7 linked regions of the Homo sapiens genome follow. The protein of the gene in region 5 purifies or fractionates together with the protein of the main gene of each other region. This does not show direct contact. Each region holds a gene or a part of one and is shown on either strand. Other genes may lie near its edges. The genes, in order: CENPV, HEXB, PRDX6, TKT, SOD1, DSTN and SOD2.

Region 1 (3,500 bases), on a different chromosome or scaffold from region 5:
CTGAGGTGGGAGAATCACTTGATCCTGGGAGGTCAAGGCTGCAGTAAGCTGTCGTCATACCACTGCACTCCAGCCTGGATAACAGAGTGAGATCTTGTCTCAAAAAAACAAAACAAAACAAAACAAAAACACCACACATACCAGTATATAGCCTTAAAAAAAAAAAAAGAAATGGTAGCATACCACGTACGTTGTTTTATACCTTGCTTAACTTTTTTTTTGAGACAGTCTCACTCTGTTGCCCAGGCTGGAGTGCAGTGGTGTGATCTCGGCTCACTGTAACCTCCGCCTCCCAGGCTCAAGTGATTCTCCTGCTTCAGCCTCCTGAGTAGCTGGGACTACAGGTGCCCGCCACCACATCTGGCTAATTTTTACATTTTTAGTACAGACAGGGTTTCACCATGTTGGCCAGGCTGGTCTTGAACTCCTGACCTCAAGTGATCTGCCCACCTTGGCCTCCCAAAGTGCTGGGATTACAGGCGTGAGCCACTGCGCCTGGCCTATACCTTGCTTTACTTTGTAACTTTGGCAATTGTTCCATGTTAGTTTTGTAGAGCTGTCTCATTCTTCTCAAAAGTTGGAGAATATTTCATTTTATGAGTGTCCATAATGCCTAACCGGTCCTCTATTGAGGGACATTTTCAATTTTTCCAATCTTTAGCCTTCATAAACAGTGCTATAGTATCTATATACCTATGTCATTGAGACATTTGGAATATATCTGTATAATAAATTTCAAGAAATGGAATTGTGTGCTAAAGCATATGTACACTTTAAAATTTTGGTAGATGTTGCTAAATTGTACCAATTCCTGTTCCTGTGACTGATATATGTGAGCACATATTTCTCTACATACTTGTCAATACCATGTTAACGGCTTTGATTTTGCCCACCTGACAGTGAAATACATCTCATTGAAGTTCCTTTGGTGAGCATTTCATAGGCTAAAGAGTGATTTATTTTTCTTTCTATCTGAACTGTCCGTTCATGTCCTTTGTCCAGTCTCCCGTTTGTATTATCCATTAAGGAAATTAGCCTGTCTATGACGTCTGGCAAATATTTTTTTCCTGGTTTGTCCTTTGTGGATAAATTAAGCACAGCCATCAGTTTTCTTAAGACCTTGAGCCGTTCTGTTTGGGGACATGGAGAGCCAGTCCCTTGGGTGAACTGTCTCTCCACATAGGCCCTGGGAAGCAAGCACTTTCCCTCCCTGATGTGATGTATCAGGGAAGGCTCAAGGCTGAATTCTGTATGCCGTTGACCTAAGGGAAGCTGTGAGCTGTCACGCTCCAGACTGACATGTCTCTGGATAGTGTAGATGGGTCTCTGTCCTCAAGAAGGTCCCAGTCTCTTCTGGAGATAGGAAATGGCCTCTTAGTACAAAGAGCCCTACAGAAGAGCTCCTGCCATTAAGTTATTTCAAGATTTTTTTTTTTAATGGTGCGATCTCAGCCCACTGCAGCCTCTACTTCCCCAGGCTCAACTGATGCTCCTACCTCAGCCTCCCAGGTAGCTGGGACTACAGATGTGTGCCACTGCACCTGGCTAATTTTTATATTTTTTTGTAGAAACAGGGTTTTGCCATGTTGCCCAGGTTGGTCTTGAACTCCTGGGCTCAAGCAATCCGCCTGCCTCGGCCTCAAAGTGTTGGGATTACAGGCATGAGCCACCATGCCTGGCCAAAGGTGTTTTTTTTTTTTTTTTTTTTGAGACGGAGTCTCGCTCTGTTGCCCAGGCTGGAGTGCCGTGGCATGATCTCGGCTCACTGCAAGCTCGGCCTTCCAGGTTCATGCCATTCTCCTGCCTCAGCCTCCCGAGTAGCTGGGACTACAGGCGCCTGCCACCACACCCGGCTACAAAGGTGTATTTTTTAAGTGACATAAAAATAAATGTCTTTGGGGCCAGGCGCAGTGGCTCACACCTGTAATCCCAGCACTTTGGGAGGCCAAGGTGGGTGAATCATGAGGTCAGGAGTTCGAGACCAACCTGGCCAACATGGTGAAACCCTGTCTGTACTAAAAATACAAAAAATTAGCTGGGCATGGGGGCACGCGCCTATAATCCCAGCTACTTGGGAGGCTGAGGCAGGAAAATCTCTTGAACCCATGCAGGTGGAGGTTGCAGTGAGCCAAGATTGCGCCACTGCACTCCAGCCTGAGAGACAGTGGGAGACTCTGTCTCAATAAATAAATAAATAAATAAATTAAATAAATAAATCTCTTTGTAAAAAAGAATACCGTTTGTCTGTTTTCACCTAGGGAGCTGAGCACATAACGACTTACACGTTCAATACTCACAAAGCCCAGCATACCTTCTGTAAGAGATGTGGCGTTCAGAGCTTCTATACTCCACGATCAAACCCCGGAGGCTTCGGTGAGTAAAGGGGATGGACTGCAAGCTCAGGGGGACACAGAGAGGCCCATGGTGCTCTCATTTAAAGTCTTATTTGGACAGGTGGGATGCTGACTAGACCCTGTCACATGCGTATCTTAGAGGAACAGGGCTCCTCAGCAGAGCGCTTTCCACATGATAGAATGTGAGTCGGGCTCCGGTGAAACTTTTCTGAATCCCATATCTGAATGTGGTGAAGTTGGACTTGGAGCCCATCCAGGTTGTGATTCTTATTCACTGGTGCTGGTAGAGCTGGTGTTGCTGGGGATGGTGTTGAAGGGTAGGGAGGAGAGGGGTGAGGAGATGGGCTTGTGGGGCCAGGGGAGGCAGCTTTAATAATGACAGGGGTTAAGGGAGTGAAGGAGGCAAGATTGGGGAGCATTGATAATGGCATTTGAAAGCTTTTTGGTTGTTCAAAAATTAGGCAGGACTGGCTGGCTGCGGTGGCTCACACCTGTATCCCAGCACTTTGGGAGGCCAAGGTGGGAGGATTTCTTGAGCTCAGGAGTTTGAGACCAGCCTGGGAAACATAGCAAAACCGTATCTCTGTTCTTTTTAAAAAATAATAAACAAGCAGGGAACCCTCCAAGCCCCGCTTCAGGGCCTGCTTGGGTCTGGGGAGTAATAAAACTAACCCTCTGACAGTTGTTGAGAATCATACCAACTATAGTGTGAATTGAAGGGGAAAGCAGAGGTGGAAGATGTTCTGAGGACTCTTGTTGTGTCAGTGCAGCCTCCAGAGCTGCGAGAGCAGCTATGACTGTCAGTGTCTTTTGCCTTATGGTGGTGGGGAGCGGACAGGGGAGGTGGGGGAGGCAGGGCAGGGCAGGATGTCATCCTTACCGCTCCCCCATTGCTTCAGGGCCTCCTGTTCCTCATCTGTCACATGGAGACTCCTTCCTGTCTACCTTGCAGAACAGGAAAGAGTTGAAAAGTATGAAATCCTGTGCAAATGGGAAGACATTTAATTCTTAGAAAGTTATCTATCTGAGGCCAGGCATGGTGGCTCACCTGAGGTCGGGAGTTCGAGACCAGCCTAACCAACATGGAGAAACCCCATCTTTACTAAAAATGCAAAATTAGCCAGGCTTGGTGGCGCACGCCTGTAT
Region 2 (3,500 bases), on a different chromosome or scaffold from region 5:
TGTATTTAATATTAATATTAATATTTAATGCCTTTACAATATTTAATGCCTTTACAGAATTTTTATTTAATATTCTCTGATTTTTGGATACCAACAAAAGGTACTTTTTTTTTTTTTGAGATGGAGTCTCGTTCTGTCACCCAGGCTGGAGTGCAGTGGTGCGATCTTGGCTCACTGCTGCAACCTCCACCTCCCGGGTCCAAGCAGTTCTCCTGCCTCAGCCTCCTGAGTAGCTGGGATTACAGGCGCCTGCCACCATACCCAGCTGATTGTTTGTATTTTTAGTAGAGACTGTGTATTTTTAGTTTCACTATGTGGGCCGGGCTGGTCTTGAACTCCTGACCTCGTGATCCTCCCGCCTTGGCCTCCCAAAGTGCTGGGATTACAGGCATGAGCCACTGCAGCTGGCCAACAAAAAGTAAATTTTAAAGGCTCTGGTGAGAATTCTGGACCTTCTTTTGGGGCTTTATATGTAAGCTAGGATACTTTTGCAGGAAGGTAACAGGAACTCTGACTCAATCTGGCTCAAACAATAGGAAAACTTATTTCACACATTAGGATGTCCAAAAGTAGGGATGAATTTAGGGCAAGTTGACCAAGTGGCTCAACAGTGTTACCAGGGATCCATATTCTTTCCATCTCTGCTCTGTCCACTTTAGTGTAGTGGCAACTAGTCCAGCTCTCACATACAGAGAAACGAAGTTTTCTTGTGATTTGCTCAGAACTCCCCCTAACCCCCACATCCTATCACTGGTCAGAATTGGTTTTTCATTCCCAAGAGTGATGGATTACCATGATGGTTTCATTATTGGTTCTTAACGGGGCTTCATATGTCACTTCAGAGTGTGGGGAAGCATTTAAAATTCCCATGCCTGAATCCCATTCTAATAGATTCTGATTCTGAAGGCATGGACGTTGGGATTTTCAAAAAACTTCCCAAGTGATTCTAATGTACAGCTTGGGGTGAGAATCTCTAGTTGGACTTACAATGGGCAGCATGGATTTGAGGAGTTAACTACAATGTTACTAGCACATCTGTTTTAAAAATTTGGCTAAAATCCTTCTAAAATGTGTTTACATTTATTTCTCAAACAGATATCATGGCTATATTTTTGGTTTCTACAAGTGGCATCATGAACCTGCTGAATTCCAGGCTAAAACCCAGGTTCAGCAACTTCTTGTCTCAATCACCCTTCAGTCAGAGTGTGATGCTTTCCCCAACATATCTTCAGATGAGTCTTGTAAGTACCTATGCAATGTGAGTGTATTATATCCCAGGTGCTCGCTGACGGACTTAAGTGCCAAAAACTGACTCCATGCTAGGAACCACTGAGTTCTCAACCAGTGAGTTTATGATTCCTATTTTAAAAATAACCTTTAAAGTCTGATTATAAAAGTAGTACATAGTCTTTGTGGAAAATTTATTAAGTACAGTAAGTGCAGAAGAAGAAATAAATCACTCATAATCCCAGCAGATAGAATTAATCACTGTCATTTTAGGTGTATTTTTTTGCAGAGTAAAACATGTAAACATTTTACATAGACATAAATACAAACATGATAAGCATTGACATGAAAATGGCAGTAATTCTGTACATGTGCTTCTTGTATTTTTGTTGTATTTTTATATCATGCTTTTTTGCAAAATACATTATAAATTAAACATGAATTTCACTAGTTTTCTGTGATATCATTTTCAATGGCTGAATAATGTTCTGTCACTATATGGATGAGCTGACTTGGGTAATCTCTTTTGGACATCTAGGTAATTTCTTAACTTTTTGTCTTTGAAAACATCTGTATCCATGATCTCTATTTATAATCTAATTTTACAGAAAGATAATGCAGAGCTAGGGGAGAGGGTGGGTACAGCAGTTTCATTTGTAATCTGCTGTACAATATAATCAACATTTAGCTGTATGATTTTGTCCTCGTTGTTGCCTAAAACGTTATTCTCTAGGGCTTTTCCCAAATTGTTTTAGAACAAATAAGTGGGCGTGCCATTTCTATAGGGTATACTGCCTGAGAATAATGTGGAATTGCACCAAGGAATCAAAGAAGGGCAGTATAAGGACATGTGTAATATAAGATTCGTGCAAGAAAGAGCAGACAGGGGAACTAAGTGTAAAGATAGAGGCTGGACGCTGTGGCTCATACCTGTAATCCCAGCACTTTGGGAGGCTGAGGTGGGTGGATCACTTAAGGCCAGGAGTTCAAGACCAGCCTGGCCAATATGCTGAAACTGCATCCCTACTAAAAAATACAAAAAGTTAGCCAAGCGTGTTGGTGCGTACCTGTAATCCCAGCTACTCGGGAGGCTGAGGCAGGAGAATCACTTGAACCCAGGAGGCAGAGGTTGCAGTGAGCTGCAATCATGCCGCTGCACTCCAGCCTGGGGGACAGAGTGAGACAGTCTCAAAAAAAAAAAAAAAAAAAAAAAAAAAAAAAAAAAAAAAAAAAAAAAAAAGATAGGATGCCACAAATTTAGAGAAAAGAGCAACTCCATTACCCCCAGACTGCCTCACAGTTAAGTACATGTCTTCATCCTGCTGGTTTAGATGAGATTTCTCAATAATACATCTCTTTGAAAAAAAGCTTTCTTTCTCTTCAATTCCATAGCTGTTCTTAGAAGAGAAATAGGAAAATTCACCAACATCAGGTATCATTTCAATTGATACTCAGCACTCAGACACCATGTGAAGTAGGTTTTGCAACCTGAATTGAGATGGAAATGGTCATTACGTTGCCAAGGAATCTTTGCTGTCCATTGGCAATACAGATAACAGATTGTAAATTCCACAAAATGAAATGTATCGAGACTAGAGAGTCATAGCTTATCTTTCAGTCAGTTCTACAAACCCTCTTTATTCTGAAAGGGAAGTTTCTTGAGACAAGGTTATTGTGAAATTTTCAGCTGAAGAATAAACTAGTTTTTAGTCTTTAAACTAGTTGATGATGATGATAAAAGTAACACATATGAATGGAAATAACAAGATATCAAATGTCCAGAGTGGGAGGACATGTTGGAGGAGGTGACACATGTTAAAGCACCACTATTTATTAAAAATAAAAATATGCATGCCCTGAGAAGTGGACTAGTTTTTACTGCAGATAAATGGACACATAAATCAAGGATGTTTGATGCAGTTTGCCTGTAATGTGAAGAACTGTCAATAAAACTCAATGTCCATCAATAGAGGAATGGCTAAATACATCTTGTCAATCTATACTAAACAGTATAATCACAACAGTTAAGAATAAAGAAGCAGTATTACTGAGAACACACATGGAGAACTGACAAGATAAACTGCTGAGTTGAACAAAGGAAGCTGTATAATTATGTGTAGAGGTGGACCCTGTTTATATATCAACACACGTGCAGGAACACACGCATAAAGCAATACTATATTTTCTCCTTCCGTGTACATCTATGTCAAGCCTAAGAAAATGCCCGATAAGTATTTCCTCTGAGGAAGGTAGAGGGAGTTAGGTGAGTATCT
Region 3 (3,500 bases), on a different chromosome or scaffold from region 5:
CACTGTGCCCGGCCAGGAACGATATTAATGAAACATGTGGGCAACTCTGTACATAAACTATTGATAGGAGAGTGAGGAACTTAGTTGGATAGAGTTTAGCAAGTAATGGAAAAGAGGATTTAAAATTGGAATAACGTCTATTGTGTGTAGGCTTGAAAGTAAAACAGGGGCTTGATGGCATAGCAGATACAAAACCATTGTGGATTTCTCAACGGAGATGTGACAAATGTGGCATTAATGAGCTCTGAAGTGGATAACAACAAATTCTTTTTATTTATTTATTTTTTTGAGGTGGAGTCTCTGTTGCCCAGGCTGGAGTGCAGTGGCGCGATCTCAGCTCACTGCAGCCTCCACCTCTCGGGTTCAAGCCATTCTCCTGCCTCAGGCTCCCGGATGATAACAAATTGTAACATTCCTTCATTTTATTATCTTAACTTTCTGTTGTCACTGGCTGCTTATGAAGTCACCAGAGCTAAATAATAATTAATATAGTCTCATGCTAGAGGCAGATTATTATATAATCAGTTGTTTGTCAAAGTTGCGGCACTGCTTCTGATAGTTCAGACTTTTTTCCTATTCAATGTAATCACAATTCTGAAAACTTCTAAGGCAGAAGCTCAGCAGGTAAAATAAACCTGAGTATGCGTCTGTCCTTTAAAAGGTATTATATAATGGGCTATAACCGCTTCCTTTGGCAATATGTCACTTTAATTATTGCTGTGCACTAATTCTCTACTCTGCCACTTGCATCATGGGCATTAGATTACACCCATGAACACCAAAGAACCTATCCTAAATTATTTGGCTTTATTCTATCCTAAATTAGGCTAAATCCTACTCTTTATCATCTTGCATTAAAAAGAACATTGATTTGAGGTTGAAATCTCATTGCCATTGGGCAGTCTTGGGCAAGTCCCTCCAACTCTCTGAGTGAAAAAAGTATGTTCAACTGCAAAAACGAAAATGAAAAATGATAGCAAAAACTACAGTTACCACTCACTGAGAAGTGTAAGGAATGAAAAAAAATTCTACTTCAAGACAGATAACTGCCCTTCTTTTTTCTCCTACACATGATTCTTCTAGTCTCAGATATTTAGGATTAACTGGCATTAACTGCTATAGGATGCAGCCACAGACCCCTAACTCACAAGTCAATACATCTTTTATTCAACTGCACGTTTGACATAGTTTCTAGTATACATCCCTCAAAAAGTAGTTATCATTATTACTTAACAGCACAGTGCAGTCAAGTTCTTAAAATGTTTTCAAGGTAAATTCAGACCACCAAATTTACTGTTCAAGTAAATTCTTTTGCTAGAAGTAGGTATTTCCTTCAGTTAATTCATTCAACAAATATTGACTGATCGCCTAGGATATACTGAGTAGTGAGCATTGTTCCAGCAGTGCACTAAACAGGAGTCTCTGTTCCTGCTGAGTTTATACTCTACTAGGAAGAAACAAACAAACTAAATAGGTAGTATGCAGAGTGCTGAGGAGAAGGGGATGGTGAACGTGAAAAGGAGTTATAATTTTAGATAATGAGGACAAGAAAGGCTTTGATGAAATGTCCTGTGAGTTGAGACCCAAAAGAGGTGAGGGTAAGTCACACAGATCCCTGGGAAGTGAGTCTTCTATCTATGATACAGGACATATTTTGAAGGTAGAGCTGACAAGTTTGAGGATAAATCAGATGTATGATGTGAAAAAACATGAAGAATTCAGAATGGCTCCTGGATTTGGGGTGTGAACAACTATAAAAATGTAGTTGCCATTAGCTTAGATGAGTAAAACTCTGGATCTAAGAATGAGGCCTAGTTAGACATGCTAGGTTTGAGATGACTGGACATCCCAGGAGAGATGCTAGGTAGGCAGTGGTTATATGAACCTGGAAGAGTCTGGCATAGAGATGAAAATTTGAGAATCACAGCACATAGATGGTATTTAAAGGTGAGTGGATGAGCTCACCAAGGGAAAGAGTGCAGACAGAAAAGAGATGAGGTCCAAGAAATAAGTTCAGGGTAACTTCAGCATAAATTAGGAGTTGGGAGATGAAGAATCAGTGAGCAGGAACAGCTAGAATGTGGTGTCCTGGAAGTCAAGAAAGGAAAAAGTTTCAGGAGGTACAGTGATCAGCTGGGTTGAATGCTGCTGGCAGGCCAAGAGGAGGGCTGAGAATTGACTGACCAATGGATTTAGCAATGTGATCACTGTGTGGTTCAACTGAAATTTTCAAATAATTAGTGAACTTTGAACCTAAGGCTTACTTGTACCTTAACCTCAAAACCAAGTACTCCATAATTTATAACTTGACCTATAATCTCAGGCTCAAAGCACATGCCAATTGATACTAACCTTGCTCCAGGCAAGATGGTCCTCAACACTGTCTATTGAAAGGGCAATCAACTTAACATTCCTCTTGGCAAATTCTGGTGCCAGCTTTGCAGCTCTGCCAAGCTCTGTGGTGCACACTGGGGTAAAGTCCCGAGGGTGGGAGAAGAGAATGCCCCATCTGAAAGGAAGAAAAACAAGGTCACAATTGAATTAAGAGTTATCACCAACATCACAGAGAATGAAAAGTCACAACTTCTGGATCAAAAACAGGCTTTCTTTTTTAAATGAATGCTTATGATGATATTTACTTTTAAGCTTTTCTGTTGAGGAGTGCTTTTCAATCTACTTACCTCCAGAGAAGCCTATGCTTATAGCCCAATTCAATCAAAGACATGAAATTCAAGATGACACATATTTAAAAAGACTAATGTTAAGGTGTTGCCTCCTTTAATAATTATGGTGCCACCCTGACTCCTTTTTGGCTAATACAATCTGTGCTATTCAAGCCAAGTAGTTCACTGAAAACACTTAATTATTTCTTCTTATCCTTTTCTACATTTTTTTCTAGCATAGACCCTGACATTCAGCTCCAATAATGGATGTCCCAGTATGCCCTGAATCCAAACAAATGCCTGACTGCAATAATAAACAAATTATGTAATCTGAAATAAATAGGTTTCTATCTTCTATTTATATGTAAAAATTAAAGTTGACACTTGGCTTCTCTGAAGCAAGTGGATATAAAATCTTTTGTAAAACCACTTTACTGATCTTACCTGCCAAACATGACACCCAATATTTATACTCTGACAAAACAATAGCACCTTCACAGTTTTACCTATCTCTTCATTTGCAGTTTCTTTTTCTTCTTTCTTCAGACCAAGCAGGTAGAATTTTGATAGCCTGCAATGTAGATTTCTACAACAGCAAATTCTTAGGTAAATACTAATATCTAAGTCATCATTGTCTAAGATTTTATAATTTTGAGCACATTTCAAGCTGTCACGAAGAAAGCTGAAGTACCATTTCCTTCTTCTTGGCAACAGAAACTACTCTTTCAACTGAAAAGGAAAATTTAACACTCAGTTCTCCACATCCCCATCAACTTAAACCATCCTAAACCAGATGATTTAGGCAGGATCCTAAACTAGTAGATAACTAAATCTAGC
Region 4 (3,500 bases), on a different chromosome or scaffold from region 5:
CTAAAAATACAAAAAATTAGCTGGACGTGGTGGCGGGCGCCTGTAATCCCAGCTACTCAGGAGGCTGAGGCAGGAGAATCACTTGAACCCGGGAGGCAGAAGTTGCGGTGAGCTGAGATTGCACCATTGCACTCTGGCCTGGGCAACAAAATTGAAACTTCTTCTCAAAAAAAAAAAAGAATGCCTCTTGGGCAAGCAGTCTGTGCCAGGCTGGAGAATGGTGAAAAAGGTGAAAGGGAAGGCCAGGTACAGCCGCGGTGGATATTAGTCAGTCTGAAAGGCACTTGGAGAGAAATAAGATTTACAAATGTAGGGTGCTCCAAAAGAGTGGAATGTCAAGTGTGTCTCCTAGTTCTTTGTTAGGCAAAGTCTGATTTCCTCACCGCCGTTACCCCTCCGGAAACATACTGTGGTGTCCGAGAGTTACACCATGTTTACATTGTAATGTCTTGGAGAGGGAAGCTCACTGAACTCAAAAAATATCCATTTGCAAAAGAAAAAAAGGATATGTAAAATACAGTGACTGTGTGTGTGTATGTATATGTTTAAAATATGCAAAAAAGGAGGGAAAACTTATTTTTCAGAAGGAAATAACGTTGCTATGCAACCCATATTTTGAAAGTTGTGAGCCAAGAGTATGTGTGTGTTTGCACCCAAAAGCTAATCAAGGAAGACTTGAGACACAGGTAGTCTTCTGTTTCTTGTCCCCAGATGTTTATCTTGAGGCCCACTGTTCCCTCTCTGCAATGAGGCATAGAGTGAAGGCTCAGTCCGGAAGCCCTGGCCCAATCTGGGCTGTAGTCACAGCTAAAGTGACAGTTTGTCAGAATGTCCCCTTTTCTGGGGGAGCTCACAGGACTTTGATCCAGTTCTTTTTCTTTTGAGATGGAGTTTCACTCTTGTTGCCCAGGCTGGAGTGCAATGGTGCGATCTTGGCTCACCACAAACTCCGCCTCCCAGGTTCAAGCAATTCTCCTGCCTCAGCCTCCCAAGTAGCTGGGATTACAGGCATGCACCACCACGCCCGGCTAATTTTGTATTTTTACCCCGTAGAGACGGGGTTTCTCCATGTTGAGGTTGGTCTTGAACTCCTGACCTCAGGTGATCCGCCCGCCTCGGCCTCCCAAAGTGCTGGGATTATAGGCGTGAGCCACCGCTCCTGGCCCCTTTTCCTTTTTTCTTTTTTTTTAAGACAGGGTCTTGCTGTGTCACCCACCAGGTCTGGAGTACAGAGGCACAGTCATGGCTCCCTGCAGTCTTGAACTCCTAGGCTATAGCAATCCTGCCTCACCCTCCTGGGTAGCTGGGACCACAGACATGTGCTACCATGTCTAGCTTTGGTCCAATCTTTTGCTGGCCACTTACTGAGACAGGATTTGTACATTCTGTGAGGACCCAGGCTCGTTTCTCGATAGCTTTCCCATTCCTATGCCATTGCTGACCCGTGTGCAGTGAACCTCACCAGGCCCAGGAAGCAGGGACACTGGCCTCTGTCAGGAGTTGGGCCTGGAGGTGAAGGGACAGACCTCACAGAAGGCTCTTTGTTGAGGCAGCGCCCACAGTGGCTAGAGCTTCTCTGGGGTCATCTCCTTCCATGGGCTGAAGGAATTATGGCAAGGGTCCAGCTCATCCTGGCTTTAAAAAAACAAAACCCCAGTGGCCTTGTCAGAAGTGGCCTGGATGCTGAGGCTGGTGGCAAAGATTTCTCAGTTCTCACCAGGGCCAGACTGTGGTGTTATCCAAACAGTGCAAGTGTCATCTGAGGACTCCATCACAGTCAGGCCTGATTCAAAAGGGAAGGTGGTCTGTGCTTTCAACAAGTCCCCCCAGGGTTTCTGACCCACAGCTTTGGGGAGGTTAATGCCTGGCCAGTCCTGGCTGGTGGACACAGGAGATGAGTCCAACCCTGGCTCTGTTCCTAGTGGCTGTGCCTTTGTCAGAAAGGCCCTTCCGGCCAGGTGCGGTGGCTCATGCCTGTATTCACAGCACTTTGGGAGGCCAGGGTGGGAGGATTGCTTGAGCCTGGGAGTTCAGGACCAAACTGGGCAACATAGTGAGACCTCATCTCTACAAAAAAAAGAAAGAGCTGTGCATGTGCCTGTAGTCCCAGCTACTTGGGAGGCTGAGGTGTGAGGATCACTTGAGCCCAGGAGTTCAAGGCTGCAGTGAGTTATGATCATGGCTCTGCACTCCAGCCTGGGCAACAGTGAAACCCTGGCTCTTAAAAAAACAAAACAAAACAAAAAAACCTTCCTATCTCAGGTTCTCAGTTGCCCAGGCTAGAATGCTGTGGCGTGATCTCTGCTCACTGCAGCCTCCGCCTCCTGGGCTCAAATGATGCCCTCATCTCAGCCTCACAAGTAGCTGGGACCACAGGCATGAGCCACTATGCCTTGGCTAATTTTTGTATTTTTTGTAGAGTTGAGGTTTTGTCATTTTGCCCAGGCTGGTCTCAAACTCCTGGGCTTAAGCGATCCACCTGCCTCAGCTTCCCTAGAGTACTGGGATTACAGGCCATTTTCTCCATCTTGAAAGGAGAGGTTCATGGATAGGTGGTTTCAAACTGGGTGCCTCAGGAGTAGGGCTGGGGATGGAGTGAGTGGGCTCCGGGGTCCCACCGCCCGCTGTTGCTGATTTTACATCCTGGTGCTCTTTGTGCCCTTAAAGTGGCTGGGGTTGTATCCCAGTTTACCCAGCTCTGACATCCAGGTGCTTTGGCTGAAGGCTTGAGGGCCTCCTGGGGTCTCTGGCCCCATGTGGCTCCGCCTCTCTGGGCCTGTTTCTGTTTTTGGGCTGCCTCAGGACCCATCCTGGCCCTGACTGAGGCAAGAGCATGACCGTTGAGATTGCCCCAGCAGCAGCATTTCCTCACTCAGTGTGAAGACACTGGCCACCCTGGGGTGGCTTGGTTCTCTGCCCGAGTGACCTCTCCTCTGCAGGGCTGGTGGTCGGTGTTTTAAGAAACTGGAAGTGAAGTACAGCACCTAGTTAGGATCTGGCTGAGACTTTGTCGTGGCTTCCTATGGACTCTAACTGATGTCCGGCCCCTGTTGTGGCTCTGACCCCTCAACATTCATTGTCTCTTGTGGCAGGCTTGTTGTCACTGTCGCCTAGTTCCACAAAATCAGGAACTCCCTTCTTGCCACAGACCAGTTTGCCCTGGGTGCTGGGGACACTTCTAGAGGTCAGGGACCTGCACAGAGCTAGGTCCTCAGGCAGGCTCTGCTCCTGCCCTGAATGGAGAGGCAAGGTAGGGGAGAGAGGATGTGCTGGGAGCTGGGGTGAGCCCACCTGCAGATGGGGGTTGCTCAGAAGTCAGTTGCATTTGTGCACTGGGTGGAATCTCCGAGGACTACACAGCTGGAAGGGAAGTGTGGACGCCCAAGAACTTCCTCTACTGAGCTCTCCTAGCACCTTTTTCTTCATTTATTTGTTTGTTTGACAGAGTCTCGCTCTGTCACCCAGGCTGGAGTGCAGTGGGGCGGCGATCTTGGCTCACT
Region 5 (3,369 bases):
ATATAATATTTTCTGACTGCTAATTAAAAATACCTGTGATAGCCGGGCGTGGTGGCTTACGCCTGTAATCCCAGCACTTTGGGAGGCCGAGACGGGTGGATCACGAGGTCAGCAGATGGAGACCATCCTGGCTAACACGGTGAAACCCCGTCTCTACTAAAAATGCAAAAAAATTAGCCGGGTGTGGTGGTGGGCGCCTGTAGTCCCAGCTACTCAGGAGGCTGAGGCAGGAGAATGGCATGAACCTGGGAGGCGGAGCTTGCAGTGAGCCGAGATCATGTCACTGCACTCCAGCCTGGGCGACAGAGCGAGACTCGTCTCAAAAAAAAAAAGAAAAAAACTTATGATGGACACTTAAAAACACTCACTGAGTGGGGAGTGGAGAGCAGGGGTCCCAGGGTAGCCTGTTGGACATTTCCAGGGCGACTTTTTCTTTTTTTTTTTTTAAAGTCAAGTGAGTATGCCATATGGAAAAGGGTGTGCGTGGAGAAAAAGCAAGGGGCTCCAGAGTGTAGGATGAGACATACACCTTTTGGGTTAAAAAGGCTGAGGCAGGAGAATGGCGTGAACCCGGGAGGCGGAGCTTGCAGTGAGCTGAGATCATGCCACTGCACTCCAGCCTGGGCGACAGAGCGAGACTCTTGTCTCAAAATAAAAAACGTTTACATGTACATGTATATTCAACATGTACAAATATAACCTATTCAAAAGTATTTACTACATAAATAGGTACTTACATTACCTATTTACTGTAATAGTCAAAGCCTATGAAGTATCTAACACTGATGTGTAGGTACTCACTTTGCTTGCCACTCTATTAGGTGCTTTTTATGTTATTTAATCATGAAGCCTGGCCACAGGGTGCTTGTGCATTGAGTGTGGGAACAAGATTACCATCTCCCTTTTGAGGACACAGGCCTAGAGCAGTTAAGCAGCTTGCTGGAGGTTCACTGGCTAGAAAGTGGTCAGCCTGGGATTTGGACACAGATTTTTCCACTCCCAAGTCTGGCTGCTTTTTACTTCACTGTGAGGGGTAAAGGTAAATCAGCTGTTTTCTTTGTTCAGAAACTCTCTCCAACTTTGCACTTTTCTTAAAGGAAAGTAATGGACCAGTGAAGGTGTGGGGAAGCATTAAAGGACTGACTGAAGGCCTGCATGGATTCCATGTTCATGAGTTTGGAGATAATACAGCAGGTGGGTGTTGTGCTGTGCTGGTGACCCATACTTGTTCACCCTAGTTAGATAAACAGTAGAGTAGCCCCTAAACGTTAAAACCCCTCAACTTGTTTTTGTTTTTGAGAAAGGGTCTTGCTCTGTCGCTCAGGCTGGAGTGCAGTGGCGCTGTGCGATCATGGCTGACCTTAGCCTTGACCTCCCAGGCTCCATTGATCCTCATGCCTTGGCCCGTAGCTGGGACTACAGGTACACACCACCACGCCTGGCTAATTTTTGTATTTTTTTCTAGAGGTGGGGTTTCATCATGTTGCCCAGGCTGGTCTTGAACTGCTGGGCTCAAGTGGTCTATCCTCCTCGACCTCCCAAAGTGCTGGGATTACATGTGTGAGCCACTGTGCCTGGGAAAACCCTCAACTTTTCTTTTAAAAAAGAGGTCAACTTTATTGTATATAAGCACTGTGCTAAAATTGCAGGAACTGGGACCATATCCTGATTTTTGTAATAATGCCAGCAGAGTACACACAAGAAAAGTAACTGCACTAGATTGTGAAGACTGGGGTGGACCTGCTTCTGAAGGTCCAGTGCCCTTTGTCTTAAGATTTGGTGTAGTGTGTCTTTAGAAACCAAAAAAAGAGAAGAAGATCAACCTTAAGATTAGCCACAAAACTGGGCTTTGATACCTAGGTGTGGAAAAGAAAGGGAAAGAGTTGATGTTTTGTCTTACAGCATCATTGTAGAAGAGGGTGTTTTTTTGTTTGTTTGTTTTTTGAGACGGAGTCTTACTCTGTGGCCCAGGCTGGAGTGCAGTGGCGCGATCTCGGCTCACTGCAAGCTCCGCCTCCCGGGTTCATGCCATTCTCCTGCCTCAGCCCCCTGAGTAGCTGGGACTACAGGTGCCCGCCACCCCGCCTGGCTAATTTTTTGTATTTTTAGTAGAGACGGGGTTTCACTGTGTTAGCCAAGATGGTCTCTCTCCTGACCTCGTGATCCGCCTGTCTCAGCCTCCCAAAGTGCTGGGATTACAGGCATGAGCCACCGCACCCAGCCAGAAGAGGGTGTTTTTTAAAGAAGGCAAATAGGAAATAAAAACTTGGGCTCTTAACTTTTGTAATGATCCCAGGTGTTTGAGCTGGGGGTTGAGGGTGGGTGCCTCGAGCAAAGGGGCTGCATTTATTTGCATAATGCCATGTAAGAGTAGCTCTACACCCCAAACACAGGCTTCTTAGTGGGACCAAAGTATGATACAAACTGAAGATGGAATGCAGAGGATTATTGGTACTTTGGAATATGCTTAAAAAAAATTTTTTTAAAGTATTTTTAAAAAATCAGGCAACCCCTGAACCAGAGTAGGTTCAGAGAAACTGCCAAATTTTATTTTCTTAATTTGGGATTGGAAGCAAGTTAACAGAAGTTTATGAGTTAAGTTGCATTTAGTGATCTTTTGCCATATTTGAGTAATAATCTGATTTTTTTGTTTATAGATTTCTTCTTAAATTAACTTTATTCATCTTGCTAATTTAGTTTCAAATAGTGATTTGTAATGATCAGATTTGATCCATTTCTGTAATTGCTGAAATTCCCCCGAGTTGCTTTTTGGCTTTACCGCCTCTGGTCTGGGAGGTGATTGCTCTGCTGCTTCCTGTAACTTGCCTGCCTTTCTCCCTGTGTGGGACTCCTGCGGGTGAGAGCGTGGCTGAAGACAGCCGTGTTATGAAAGGGCCTCCTGTGCTGTCGAGGTTGTGCTCTGTGAATGTCATCCCCTGGTGCACAGCAGCACCTTCTACACAGGATACAGTTGGAATGCCGCCCCCTCGAGTTGTGTAAGGCAGCAGCCTTGGCCCTTGCACATAAGATGCTGTTGAATATTCTGCCTGCACCAAGTAAAGGGCACAGATAGAACTGCTTGGCATATGTTGCTGGGGAGATGAGTTTTTTGTAAAGTATACTACGTTCTTAAGAATTTGGATCATAACCATGGGATTTTAATAATAGAAAAACTGTTGAAGATCAGTCTGGTCCCTTATTTTTACAGTGAAGAAGCCAAAGCCCAGAGAAGGGTGTTAACTTTACAAGTGTCAGACAGTAGTTAGAACTTGGTGGGGTTTTTTTTTTTTTTTTTTTGAGATGGAGTCTTGCTCTGTTGCCCAGGCTGGAGTGCAGTGGTGCGATCTCAGCTCACTGCAACCTCTGCCT
Region 6 (3,500 bases), on a different chromosome or scaffold from region 5:
TATCTCAAAAATAAATAAATAAATAAATAAATAAATAAATAAATAGCTATTTTTTACCTTCAGATCAATGGAAAGCCACTGGACTGTTCTAAGTATGGTGATCAGATTCATGTTTATGTAGAGGATGAATTGGAGGGTAAAGGTGATGGGCAGTTGGTATGGGCAGTCTTGTTGTATTAGAACTGCAATAACAAATTAAATTCAAAATCTCAGTGACTTAACACAGTAAAGATTTGTCTCTGTCACGCAGAGTCCAGAAGGGTTGGGCAGCCTTCTCCTATCATGAAGTATGCTTACCAAGGTCATCTTGGTGGGAGAAAACAGAGCTTTAAGATCACTTTTATTTAACTTTTATTTAATTTTTGATGTTTTAAAAATCATTTTATTGTGGTAGGATTCACATCTAAAAAGCTGTATTTAGTGTATTTAAAGATCACTTTTAAAGGGCCAGGACTGGAAGTAGTTTACATAACTGGGCCCAGCTTGGCTGTTCAGAACTCAAATGGCTGTTCAGAACTCAGTCATACAGCCAACTCAGCTTGCCAGGAAGGCTGGGGAATGCAGTCTTTCCTGTTCAGCCAAGAAGAGAAAACAGTATGATGTATACATATCCTAATCTCCCTCCTCTGCAGCCACTTGAGGAGTTACTGCAGTCCAAGTAAGAGGCAATGGAAGCTTGGACTGAGGGTGAAATGAGATGAATGTATCAGAGAAAGATGAAAATCCAAAGAGTAAGATAATGGAGGAGTTGCTAAGAACATCTCTTAGGCTTGGAGCCTTATGTGACTAGGAGGGTGGTGATAGCTACTGAGAAAGGAAGACTGGTTAGAAATGGACCAGCTTGTTTTTTATTTTAGACATGTTGTGCATCACATGCCTTTGAGACACACAACTGGAGATGTGAGATAGGAAGTTGAATGTAAAGACTAGAAGCTCAGAAGAGCAGAAGTCTGAACTAAGTTTTGGCTTAGATGATTGAAAGCTTGAGCTTGGGTAAACTCTCTGAGGAAGAATGCAGAGTTCGTCCTTTCCTTCCACACTGCCATCAGCCTCTGCTTTCCACTGCATTGTCCTACCACCCTCACCCCTTGACCTCAGCTGACCTTTTGGAGGTCCCCAGAGCCCTTTTTCTTGTCCTTAGGTAGTTCCTTTTGGAACTCCCCGTCATAGCTGTTCTGAATTGTTAGTAGTAGTAGATTGGAGGAGTGCCCTCAAACCCATCCTACTCCTCCTGCCTTATACTTCACAGAGAAAATAGAATCTTTCAGACACAATTTTTGGCAGTGTATCTTCCTTCCACCTCAAAACTGTCATTTTCCCTTCCTCCCTGTTTCAGAGAAAAAAATGTGTATCTTTTTCTTAGGCTAACTCTCCCATCTGTGCTGTGGATCTTACCCATTTCTTTAGATCTCTGATATTGTTAATTTTATGAGTGATTAAGATTATCTCCTCTGGAATTGCTTGAACCCAGGAGGCAGAGGTTGCAGTGAGCCGAGATGGTGCCATTGCACTCCAGCCTGGATGACAAGAGCGAACGTCCATCTGGAAAAAAAAAAAAAATCTCCTCTGGAGCCAAATTGCCAGAGTTCAAATCCCAATTCCTCTATTGTTTACTCTGTGACCCTGGGCAAATTATTTAATTTTGCTATGCATCTTTAAGATGCAAATAGTGATAGTAGCTGTCTCATAGAATTGTTGTGATTTAGAAGTGTCTAGCAATAGTAAGTACTCAGTGTATGTTTTAATTTTTTTTTAATGTTTTGGCTCTTCCTCTTTATTCCTTCAAGTTCTTAAATATCTAGAACAGTTACATCTCCCCAATCATAAGACAACTTGCATGAAGTACCATTCAATCTTCCCTTTTTTCTTCATTGTTAACCATCTTATGTTTTCTGTCTTTACCTCTTCAATTCCCCATGGGTCCCCAGTCCATTATGGTTGACTTCTGTCCCATTTCTCCCATCTGTTGAAATGTTCAGAGGCCCAATTGCCAAGCCCAGCGATCTGTTTTCATTCTCTGAAATACTGCAGAATTGGCTGTTGATGACTTTCCTCCTCAAAATATTCTCCCTTGCTTCTAAGATGCTGCTTTCTTCCTTCTTTTTCTTCTTAGTTTTCTGATTACCTCTTTTTAGTGTCCTTGATGGGTTTCTCTTTTTAATTTTTACGTACTCAGTGGTGAGAAACTAGATTGGTTTTTCTTTTGCTGCTTAATGTTGGTGACCCCATGGTGTGGGCTAGTCCAAAATATGGATTAGGTGAAGCCTTCCAACGAGATCCGTGCTCATATTTCTGCCACTGTCTGGTCATCTCCACCTAGATGTCTTGCACAGTCTTCAGAGTGGATGTGTCGTACTGTGCCATATTTCCTTTTCTGTTCATATATTGCAGTCTAGTCACTAATCGAGAGAATCCTGGGGCTTCTCTGATACCACTCTTTTGTGTCTCATTCAGCTATATTGGTTTGACTTTGACATGTCCTTGAATTTTTCTGTTTTTAACCTCACTGCTGTAGTTCAGAGCTTTCTTCTCTGAATATTTGTAATTGTGTCAAAATTGGTTTTCTGCTTCCAGTTTCTGTGCCAGTTTCTCCTTCAAGTATTCAGTGTTAATTTCCTCAAGCACAAGTGTCTAATGGTATAAGAAACCTCCACAGACATCACTTCTGATAGAAAAAAAGACAAAATTCTTCCTTACTGAGGCTTTTAAGGAGCTTGTAAGTTACAGCCAGATTTGGCTGAGATTTATCTGTTTTATAATTGCAGAATGCACATTTACTTTGTTTTTGATTACTAGTACATCATTGATTTAATTTACAAATCAGAATTTAGAATGTTTGAGATGCTTAGATATTGATTGATGTATTTAAAGATTGGTTGATTGAATATAAGGCTTTAGATGTTGCCTTCCTGCTTTTAGAAATTGCTTGTTGGGTCAAATGTGACTTCAACATTATGGACTAGGGAGTTAGAGGGATTGGGATCTGTTTCTAGTTCTTCAATTTTTGTTGCTTTGAACATTTTATTCATCTGTTGCAAAATGGAGATTCTTAACTTGCTTAACATAAGATACGTTGTAAAGATCAGAAATATGCTACTCCTAAAGCAGTAAAAGGTTTAAGAAAAGTGCTTTTTAAAATTAGGAATGTGGTAATATTGTGTACTTATGAGTTTTCTAGTCCTAATTTTCTGTTTCTGCCACTTTATTAGAGTGAATGTTCATTTATGAACAGAAAATGTGGAGTAGATGGCATTGGAGTGTGTTATTTAGAGATCTTTAATGAATGAGATGATGAAATAGCCCAGTTACCTTAATATTAAGTAAATGCTAGGATCTTAGTGTATCTTTCTCCCAGGATTCTTGCATGTGTTTTAAAGTGACAACTTTATTTTTATTTGTTTGTATAAATGTATGGGGGTACAAGTGTAATTTTGCTACATGCATGGATGGTAGCAGTGAAGCCAGATCTTTTAGGGTATCCATCACCCGAATAACATACA
Region 7 (3,500 bases), on a different chromosome or scaffold from region 5:
TGTTATGTGTGAATTTGATCCTGTCACTAGGATGTTCACTGGTTATTTTGCTCGTTAGTTGATGCAGTTTCTTCCTAGCCTCAATGGTCTTTACAATTTGGCATGTTTTTGCAGTGGCTGATACTGGTTGTTCCATTCCATGTTTAGTGCTTCCTTCAGGAGCTCTTGTAAGGCAGGCCTGGTGGTGACAAAATCTCTCAGCATTTGCTTGTTTGTAAAGGATTTTATTTCTCCTTCACTTATGAAGCTTAGTTTGGCTGGATATGAAATTCTGGGTTGAAAATTCTTTTCTTCAAGAACGTTGAATATTGACCCCCACTCTCTTCTGGCTTGTAGAGTTTCTGCTGAGAGATCAGCTGTTAGTCTGATGGGCTTCCCTTTGTGGGTAACCCGACCTTTCTCTCTGGCTGCCCTTAACATTTTTTCCTTCATTTCAACTTTGGTGAATCTGACAATTATGTGTCTTGGAGTTGCTCTTCTCGAGGAGTATCTTTGTGGCGTTCTCTGTATTTCCTGAATTTGAATGTTGTCCTCCCTTGCTAGATTGGGGAAGTTCTCCTGGATAATATCCTGCAGAGTGTTTTCCAGCTTGGTTCCATTCTCCCCGTCACTTTCAGGTACACCAATCAGACGTAGATTTGGTCTTTTCACATAGTCCCATATTTCTTGGAAGCTTTGTTCGTTTCTTTTTACTCTTTTTTCTCTTAACTTCTCTTCTCACTTCATTTCATTCATCTGATCTTCAATCACTGATAACCTTTCTTCCAGTTGATCGAATTGGCTACTGAAGCTTGTGCATTCGTCACGTAGTTCTCATGCCATGGTTTTCAGCTCCATCAGGTCATTTAAGGACTTCTCTATGCTGGTTATTCTAGTTAGCCATTTGTCTAATCTTTTTTCAAGGTTTTTAGGTTCTTTGTGATGGGTTCGAACTTCCTCTTTTAGCTTGGAGAAGTTTGATCATCTGAAGCCTTCTTCTCTCAACTCGTCAAAGTCATTCTCCGTCCAGCTTTGTTCTGTTGCTGGCAAGGAGCTATGTTCCTTTGGAGGGGGAGAGGCGCTCTGATTTTTAGAATTTTCAGCTTTTCTGCTCTGTTTTTTCCCCATCTTTGTGGTTTTATCTACCTTTGGTCTTTGGTGATGGTGATGTGCAGATGGGGTTTTGGTGTGGATGTCCTTTCTGTTTGTTAGTTTTCCTTCTAACAGTCAGGACCGCCAGCTGCAGGTCTGTTGGAGTTTGCTGGACGTCCACGCCAGACCCTGTTTGCCTGGGTATCACAGTGGAGGCTGTAGAACAGCGAATATTGCTGAACAGCAAATGTTGCTGCCTGATCATTCCTCTGGAAGCTTCATCTCAGAGGGGTACCCGGCCATGTGGGGTGTCAGTCTGCCCCTACTTGGGGGTGCCTCCCAGTTAGGCTACTCGGGGGTCAGGGACTCACTTGAGGAGGCAGTCTCTCCGTTCTCAGATCTCAAACTCTGTGCTGGGAGAACCACTGGTCTCTTCAAAGCTGTCAGACAGGGACATTGAAGTCTGCAGAGATTTCTGCTGCCTTTTGTTCGGCTATGCCATGCCCCCAGAGGTGGAGTCTACAGAGGCAGGCAGGCAGGCCTCCTTGAGCTGCAGTGGGCTCCACCTAGTTCGAGCTTCCCGGCTGCTTTATTTACCTACTGAAGCCTCAGCAATGGTGGGCTCCCCTCCCCTAGCCTCACTGCCACCTTGCAGTTCGATCTCAGACTGCTGTGCTAGCAATGAGCAAGGCTCCATGGGCGTGGGACCCTCCGAGCTAGGCACAGGATATAATCTCCTGGTGTGCCGTTTGCTAAGACCATTGGAAAAACGCAGTATTAGGGTGGGAGTGACCCAATTTTCCAGGTGCCGTCTGTCACAGCTTCCCTTGGCTAGGAAAGGGAATTCCCTGACCCCTTGCCTTCCCGGGTGAGGCCATGCCTTGCCCTGCTTCAGCTCATGCTCAGTGGGCTGCACCCACCGTCCTACACCCACTGTCCAACAAGCCCCAGTGAGATGAACCTGGTACCTCAGTTGGAAGTGCAGAAATCACCTGTCTTCTGCGTCGCTCACGCTGGGAGCTGTAGACTGGAGCTGTTCCTATTCGGCCATCTTGGAACCCAACCCAAGTCTGGCATTTTTTGGTTTTCTCTGTGTATTGACTATGATTATAGAGGATAAATGGATATTGATATTATTAAATCGTCATTTACAGAAGGCACACAACTTATATCCTTTAAACAAAGTTCTCCAACCAGTAGGGTATACTTGCTGGTAGTGCTTACAGCTGCCACCATTCTTCACTGGGGCTCAGAGTGGATGCCTGGAGGAAAAAAACAAATGAATCTTTTAGCTCCTAGTTACTGTTAGCATTTTTACCAGAAAACAATTTAAAAAATGACACAAGTAAGTCTTCACCTATCAAGGCTGAGTGTGGTGGCCTATACTTGTAATCTCTGTGCTTTGGGAGGCCAACGCAGGAGGATCTCTTGAGTCCAGGAGTTTGAGACCAGCCTGGGCAACAAAGCAAGACCCCATCTCTACAGAAAGTTAAAATTTAGCTGGGCATGCTGGCACATCCCTATAGTCCCAGCTACTTGAGAGGCTGAGTTGGGAGGATCCCTTGAGGTCATGAGTTGGAGTCTACAGTGAGCTGTGATTACAGTGTGAGTCTACACTGCACTCCAGTCTGGGTGAAAGAGATCCTGTCTCTCAAAAAACAAGTGATTCTCCTGGGAAGAGATTTGTTTAAAAAGTCTGCACCTCTATTGATGATAACTTTGAATGTAAATGGATTAAATTCTCCCACTTAAAAGATATAGATTGACTGAATGGATTAAAAACCACCATCATGACTCGACTGTATGCTGCCTACAAGAAACCTCACCTGTAAAGACAGGCCAAAAGTGAAGGTATGGAGAAAGATATTGCATACAAATGGAAGCCAAAAAAGAGCAGAAATAACTATACTTACATGAGATAAAATAGACTTTAAGTCAAAAACTGTAAAAAGAAAAGTCATTATGTAATGAAACAAGGATCAATTCATGCAAGATATAATCATATTTTTTTATTAAGAAAATTTTTTTGTAGAGATGGGGTTATGCTATGTTGCCTGGCTAGTCTCAAACTCTGGGTCTCAAAGCAGTCCTCCTGCTTTGGCCTCCTAAGGTGCTGGGATTATAGGCATGAGCCACTGTGCCAGGCCTGAGGATATTATCATTATAAATATATATGTACCCCACACTGGATGACCCAGATATAAAGCAAATATTATTAGATTTAAAGGGAGAAATAGACTCTAATACAATAGTAGTTGAGGACTTCACTCTACTCTCAGCATTGGACAGATTTTCTAGACATAAAACCAATAAATATTGGATTTAAATTGCACTTTACACCAAATGGACCTGACATTTACAGAACATTCTAATAGGTGCAGAACACTCTAATAGCTGCAGAACACACGTTCTTTTCATCAGCACATGGA

Evidence for each region.
Region 1: the proteins of SOD1 (region 5) and CENPV purify together in Homo sapiens (affinity purification with mass spectrometry; 2 studies listed by BioGRID and IntAct, with this or other methods). This does not show direct contact.
Region 2: the proteins of SOD1 (region 5) and HEXB purify together in Homo sapiens (affinity purification with mass spectrometry; 3 studies listed by BioGRID and IntAct, with this or other methods). This does not show direct contact.
Region 3: the proteins of SOD1 (region 5) and PRDX6 purify together in Homo sapiens (affinity purification with mass spectrometry; 2 studies listed by BioGRID, with this or other methods). This does not show direct contact.
Region 4: the proteins of SOD1 (region 5) and TKT purify together in Homo sapiens (affinity purification with mass spectrometry; 3 studies listed by BioGRID, with this or other methods). This does not show direct contact.
Region 6: the proteins of SOD1 (region 5) and DSTN purify together in Homo sapiens (affinity purification with mass spectrometry; 2 studies listed by BioGRID, with this or other methods). This does not show direct contact.
Region 7: the proteins of SOD1 (region 5) and SOD2 fractionate together in Homo sapiens (co-fractionation; 2 studies listed by BioGRID). This does not show direct contact.

The regions. Positions count from the first base shown.
Region 1 is NC_000017.11:16,343,470-16,346,969, reverse strand, and holds part of CENPV (centromere protein V), read left to right. Parts: intron 1-2,258; coding exon 2,259-2,373; intron 2,374-3,500. UniProt on the Homo sapiens protein: Required for distribution of pericentromeric heterochromatin in interphase nuclei and for centromere formation and organization, chromosome alignment and cytokinesis.
Region 2 is NC_000005.10:74,688,233-74,691,732, forward strand, and holds part of HEXB (beta-hexosaminidase subunit beta isoform 1 preproprotein), read left to right. Parts: intron 1-1,095; coding exon 1,096-1,241; intron 1,242-3,500. UniProt on the Homo sapiens protein: Hydrolyzes the non-reducing end N-acetyl-D-hexosamine and/or sulfated N-acetyl-D-hexosamine of glycoconjugates, such as the oligosaccharide moieties from proteins and neutral glycolipids, or from certain mucopolysaccharides.
Region 3 is NC_000001.11:173,480,335-173,483,834, reverse strand, and holds part of PRDX6 (peroxiredoxin-6), read right to left. Parts: intron 2,510-3,500; coding exon 2,353-2,509; intron 1-2,352. UniProt on the Homo sapiens protein: Thiol-specific peroxidase that catalyzes the reduction of hydrogen peroxide and organic hydroperoxides to water and alcohols, respectively. Can reduce H(2)O(2) and short chain organic, fatty acid, and phospholipid hydroperoxides.
Region 4 is NC_000003.12:53,249,523-53,253,022, reverse strand, and holds part of TKT (transketolase), read left to right. Parts: intron 1-3,500. UniProt on the Homo sapiens protein: Catalyzes the transfer of a two-carbon ketol group from a ketose donor to an aldose acceptor, via a covalent intermediate with the cofactor thiamine pyrophosphate.
Region 5 is NC_000021.9:31,662,693-31,666,061, forward strand, and holds part of SOD1 (superoxide dismutase [Cu-Zn]), read left to right. Parts: intron 1-1,097; coding exon 1,098-1,194; intron 1,195-1,613; exon of another isoform or gene 1,614-1,790; intron 1,791-3,369. UniProt on the Homo sapiens protein: Destroys radicals which are normally produced within the cells and which are toxic to biological systems.
Region 6 is NC_000020.11:17,594,075-17,597,574, forward strand, and holds part of DSTN (destrin), read left to right. Parts: intron 1-3,500. UniProt on the Homo sapiens protein: Actin-depolymerizing protein. Severs actin filaments (F-actin) and binds to actin monomers (G-actin). Acts in a pH-independent manner.
Region 7 is NC_000006.12:159,669,242-159,672,741, reverse strand, and holds part of SOD2 (superoxide dismutase [Mn], mitochondrial isoform A precursor), read left to right. Parts: 3' UTR 1-3,500. UniProt on the Homo sapiens protein: Destroys superoxide anion radicals which are normally produced within the cells and which are toxic to biological systems.